2 separate regions of the Homo sapiens genome follow, and region 2 is linked to region 1. Evidence: fine-mapped expression QTL. A gene starts in region 1. The other region holds a variant in brackets. All regions are shown on one strand. Distances are from middle to middle. Region 1 holds the start of SOX30 (SRY-box transcription factor 30). Region 2 overlaps C5orf52 (chromosome 5 open reading frame 52).

Region 1 (2,864 bases):
CACCGGACGTTGGGGCCAAGATGACCTCCGCGCTGCCATGAACCAGGCCATTGGACGCGGGCTCCGCGCCGAGCCTGCAGTCCTCGAGGAGTCTCTCGGGTTCCTCCGTTTTGATCACACCTTCTCGGATGGCTGCCGGGCTTTTGCCTGCCCCGCCTTGCATCGAGTCTCTCATGACCTCCTCCGCCTCCAGCTTGCCCTTCTCGTCCCCTCGGAAGTAGCCGAGGGCCGGCCCGGGGCCTTCCAACTTGACCACCCTGGAGGCTCTAGGACCGGTTTCGACGGCCCCTCGAGGCCCCACTGACTGATCCAGGCTGGGCCCCAGCTTCTGCTTCTTGGCCTTGACATGCAGCGCCAGGGGCTGCACCGGGTGCAACTCGGGCCTGGAGGTGGCGCCGTCTGACGCTGTCGGCGGCTGCAGGAGCCGCAGGTCGGGCCTGAACTGCAACAGCCGCGCCTGCGCGGACGAGGCAGCGGCTTCCTCGTTCTGGGCCTGAGGCTGTGGTAGCAGCAACACCTGCTCTGGCTTCACCTGCAGCAGCCGCCGCACCGCGGGCTGTAAGCCGGACGCCACTGCCTCCCCGCACGACGAGGCCAAGGTCGCACTGGCTGCCGCGCTCAGTGTGGGAGACGACGGAGGGGGCTCCATGGCTGCTGCCCAAAAGGAGGTGCCCTCGACCGGCAGCGGGGGCGGAGCGGGACGCAACGGGCGCGGCTGAGGCGGCGGCTCGGGTCTGGCTCTCTCCATGGGGGAGGGGGACGCCCCGGCCAGGATTGTGAGCTCAGCCGTTTGTTGGCGACCTTCCCCCTCCCCCTTTCGGTTAAGAGCCTTGCAAGGCCTTTGCTACCCAGAACCCTACGCGGTTCAAAACGCAGCTGTCTGTCTGGGCCTCACCCAATCACAACGACCGATACCCGTGGACGGCCAATCACAGGCGGGTTTTCCGGCTCTTCCTGGTCCCTACTCTCGCCTCGTGCTGAGTCCTCGAATCACCTGCCATGGTAGGAGCCGCCGCACTTGTTGCACATTTTCGTTCTGACTCTCTTGTGGAGTTCTCTTACAGCCGTTGTCTTTAGTCATCCCTCCCCCACCCGGAGCTGCGACAATGGCGTTGCCCAGGAAACGTTGCGCTTCCAGGCCGCTGACATCCAGGGAATGAAGTCTTGCGTCACAAGGGGAGCGACGGCCTTGTGCACGCGCTCTGTGCGGCCTGAGTAATCTGTCGGCCCTGAGTACCACCAGGGCTTTTGAATCTTTGCCAAGGGAGAATGGGGAAGATTTTGCAACTTATCAATAACCTATTAGCTAATGTTGCTGGGGAGGATCTTCGACTTTGTGTGATTATTGTGCTAAAGTTTCAATTAATCACCAGGCCCTGTGGCCCTACTTCCAAAATACTATACATCCCAAATTCATCCACTGTTTTGTGTCTCTACCTGCCATTATCCTGTTCCAGGCTCCCAGCATCTTTCACTGGGATACTGCCGTAACCCTGTAAATAGTCTCCCTGCTTGTCACCCTTGCCCCACTACACTCCAGCTGCCAGTGATCTTTCGAAAACGCAAATCTAAGGTTGTCACACTTTTCCTAAACTTTCCATGGCTCCCCACTGATAATGTAATGAAAGTCTAAAATTCTTAGCAAAGCCTTAAAAATCCCCCAGTGGCTTGGGATCTAACCTCCTACTACTGCTACTATTAGATTGGTGCAAAAGTAATTGTGGTTTTTGCCATTAAATAGTTATTGAGTCTTTGGGTTTCAGCCACATTGGCCCCATCATCATTCTCTTTCTACTGCAGGGTGTTTAAACATGCTCAGCATGCTACTCTTTCCTTTGTGTCTCCTTAATTCCTCCTGCACATTTTTCATATTGCAGCTCAACTGGGACTTCTTCAGAGAAGCTTTTACTGACTCTGAAAATCAGATAAAATCTTGGTCTACTTATACCTCTATCACTTGGTTTGCTTACCACAATTTGTAATTAGAATTTTCATGTGATGATTCCACTGCCTCTCCCACTTTAGACTATAAAGTCCTTGAAGGCAGAACAGTTTGTGTTTTGCCCATCACTGAATCCACAATGCAGACCATTGAGCCTGGCATATAGTACTCAATAAATACTTGTTGAATAAATAAATGAATAGCGACTGTGATAGGGTAATAATAAAATAGTAATAATCACTACCTGTGTTAAGGGCTTACTCTTATGCTAGACACTGTTCCAAATCCTTTCCATGTTTATGTTTCTCCTTTTAGTAGGATTGTGTTTATTTCCATTAAACATCACCAAGAAAAACAAAAAGAAATCCTGTATTAACATTTGCTGCATTTCTAAATGACATTCTGGCCAAAAACTATAGTTTATCTTGACGTAGATGATTTTTGCAATCAAGACAAGTTATCACTCAAAGACCACTCCAATTTATTGTCCAATCCTCTGGTAACAAATGTGGTCAGTAGGAGTTCTTATACCTGGCAGATAGACAAGGGCAATGGTTTTCAAACTTTTATCTCAAGAACTCATTATACCCATAAAAACTATTGAAGATCCTGGGCTGGGCGTGGTGGCTCACTCCTGTAATCCCAGCACTTTGGGAGGCTGAGGCAGGCGGATCACTTGAGGTCAGGAGTTCGAGACCAGCCTGGCCAACATGGTGGAACCTCGTCTCTACTAAAAATAAAAAATTAGTTGGGCATGGTGGCACATGCCTGTAATTCCAGCTACTCGGGAGGCTGAGGCAGGAGAATCGCTTGAACCTGGGAGGCAGAGGTTGCAGGAGCCGAGATCGTGCCACTGCACTCCAGCCTGGGCAACAGAGCAAGACCCTGTCTCAAAAAAAAAAAAAAAAACTATTGAAGATCC
Region 2 (2,906 bases), 22 kb after region 1:
AGGCGCTCACCACCACGCCCAGCTAATTTTTGTATTTTTAGCAGAGATGGGGTTTCACCATCTTTGCCAGGCTGTTCTGGAACTCCTGACTTCCAAGTGATTCGCCTGCTTCAGCCTCCCAAAGTGCTGGGACTACAGGCGTGAGCCAACTTGCCCGGTCCTGAACAATTATTTTTAAATGGACAAAACCATTTAAAGATATATGTTCATAAGACTACTTCGTGGTGTAACCAAATTATCAAAAAGTGAAAACTCAGTGCCTGTAAGTGTATCCACTTTTCACCATTTTCTCATTTTGACCAAATTGTTGTATTTTCACCTGGAGTACTTGGCTCCATTCTACCCCACCCCACCCCATCTTTCACCTCTCACCTTTCAGAGTCTCCTAAAACCCCTAGCCACCCCATACCTCCTTCACTTTTCTAAACTCCCCAAACTTTCTTCCAGAATTTCCCTGTTAACCAGCCTAACACCTGTCCAAGCTTTTCATTTGCATTTCTCCCTGCTCTGATTTATACTCCCCCAACCCCCCACCTCCCAGATCCCCTTGAAGCATATGCTCTAGAGCAAGTGCCCCCCAAGCTAAACACCTCCCAGATTCATCCTTCTGAATCCTACCCTACAACTTTACTCCTCTCCTCTAAGACTCCTCTCACCATTTCATCCTTAAGAAGGATCATCAAGATGACTGCTTTTGGCTGGGTGGGCGTGGTGGCACTTGCCTGTAATCCCAGCACTTTGGGAGGCTGAGGTGGGTGTATCTCTTGAGGTCAGGAGTTTGAACCCAGCCTGTCCAACATGGTGAAACCCCGTCTCTACTAAAAGTACAAAAATTAGCCAGGCATGGTGGCGAGTGCCTGTAGTGCCAGCTACTCAGGAGGCCGAGGCAGGAGAATTGCTTGAACTGGAGGTGGAGTTTGCAGTAAGCCAAGATTGCACCACCACACTCCAGCCTGGGAGACAGAGTGAAACTCCGCCTCAAAAAAACAAAAAACACAAAAAGGGTGACTGCTTCTGAGGATGGTTCTGAGTTCCTGATAACCCTTCTCTTAAGGACTGCACTAGGCCATTTTACATCCTCAGAATGGCTTTTCTTCTGGGTAACCATGAAATACCCCTTTAGCATACCTTTTCCACAACAAGAAACTGTGGTTACTCCCCTGTTCTTTTGAAAATTATGACAGAGCTGCACTTGTCCCAAGAAACCCGGGGAAGCCTCAGCCACTCCCTCAGGACCCCATCAAATGTGCTCTGGCCCAGGCCCCAACC[G/A]TCTGTAACCTGTGCCACCTTTCCCTCCCTGCTCCAGCTTAATGAATTCCAGTGAAGCAGCGATGAAAAAAACTTTACCCAAGAGCCATTTATCTCGGGTGATTATTCATGATAACCGCATCACACAACGAATCTATGAGATGGAGGTAAAGTAGCCACAAGCTTTTGCATTAGAGGGTGTTAGTGGCTTGACCCATATTCATTTCATTCTCCCTATATGCTGGGATATCATAGAGGTGATAGGGAGTCATCAAGGTGCTCTAAGGCAGGCCCCATTTTACAGAGGAGGCAATTGATACTCGGGGTTACTGACTTGCGCAAGGTGTCGCACCTGTTCCTGGGCTAAGGGAGCCAGAGAGAAAGACTCCATGTCTCTTGGGTCTTTTTTTCTGAAAGCACATTATCTCTCTATTTAGGGAATCCATGAATGGATTCTTATTTTCTCCCATACAAAGTCTTGGGTCCTAGGCCACACGCAGTGGCTCATACCTCTAATCCCAGCACTTTGGGAGGCTGAGGCAGGAGGATCACTTGAGGTCAGGAATTCGAGACCAGCCTGGCCAATATGGTGAAATCCTGTCTCTACTAAAAATACAAAAATTAGCCAGGTGTGGTGGCAGCCAGGTGTGTGGCAACAGAGCAAGACTCCATCTCAAAAAACAAACAAACAAAAAAACAGAAAACCAAAGTCTTGGGTCCTAGAGTTTGAATGGGCCTCAACACCATCTTGTCAATTTTTTCCTTTGGGGATTATCCCCATTTTCCAGATGAGAGCTGAGGCTCTTCTCCCACTTTTTGCTATGGACAGGTAGAGTTTCACCTGCTTACTCGAAATCCTGAGTGCTGTCACCCCACTGTTCCCATAGACCCTGATTGATGGATTCATTAAACCTGTCCTTAGGGCCTGCTTGGGACAGGTACTGTGTTGGGCGCTAGGAAGAGACAAGTGAACAAGATGGACTCCAGAAACACACTCATTCTTTCAAGCAGAGCAGGGTGCCCAGGGTTGAGCTGCTGCCACCTTCTTTTCTTTTTTGAGACAGAATTTCATTCCTGTTGTCCAGGCTGGAGTGCAGTGGCGCTATCTCAACTCACTGCAACCTCTACCTCCCGGGTTAAGCAATTCTCCTGCCTCACCCTCCCAAGTAGCTGGAATTACAGGCATGCACCACTACGCCCGTCTAATTTTTGTTTTATTAGTAGAGACGGGGTTTCACCATGTTGGCCAGGCTGGTCTCAAACTCCTGACCTCAGGTGATCCACCCACCTCAGACTCCCAAAGTGCTGGGATTACAGGAGTGAGCCACCACGCACAGCTGCTGCCTGCTTCTTGACTCTTTTGAGCTTCCTTCCATGTTCCAGGGTCAAGTCTGGATGGGCCCACAAAATTCTAACATTAAAAACAATTGGAGATCCTTAAGAGATGGTGCCAGATCCTCTTGAAGGTCACAAACACCAAAAGAAGAGTAGGGACCCGGGCATTTCTCTTTCTGCTACACTTCCATGGGTGTGGTGTAGTGGAAATAGATGGGCAAGCCAGCTTTGTGTGACCCTGTGTGAATTACACTTCCTCCAGACTCTGCTTTCTCATTTGTAAAATAGGATCTATTAAGATCCTCTCAGTTGCAGGTAACATA

The links. PIP is the estimated chance that this variant, and not a neighbour inherited with it, causes the effect. A credible set is the group of variants that fine-mapping cannot tell apart.
Region 2: its variant is the best candidate, but not a certain one, in a credible set for the expression of SOX30 in prefrontal cortex (BrainSeq, PIP 0.52).

What each region holds. Positions count from the first base shown.
Region 1 is chr5:157,651,331-157,654,194 of GRCh38, forward strand. SOX30 (SRY-box transcription factor 30) reads right to left here and starts at 1,108. Exons shown (of 5, transcript NM_178424.2): 1 at 1-1,108. The coding sequence starts at 748. It overlaps LOC105377675 (a long non-coding RNA gene), which reads left to right and starts at 476. Exons shown (of 3, transcript XR_941127.3): 1 at 476-1,002. RefSeq lists an enhancer at 751-1,045.
Region 2 is chr5:157,673,786-157,676,691 of GRCh38, forward strand. C5orf52 (chromosome 5 open reading frame 52) reads left to right here. Exons shown (of 3, transcript NM_001145132.2): 2 at 1,307-1,415. Among named protein-coding and RNA genes, the nearest start is that of C5orf52, 3.7 kb to the left of the region's middle. The variant G/A (reference allele first, on the strand shown) is at 1,270.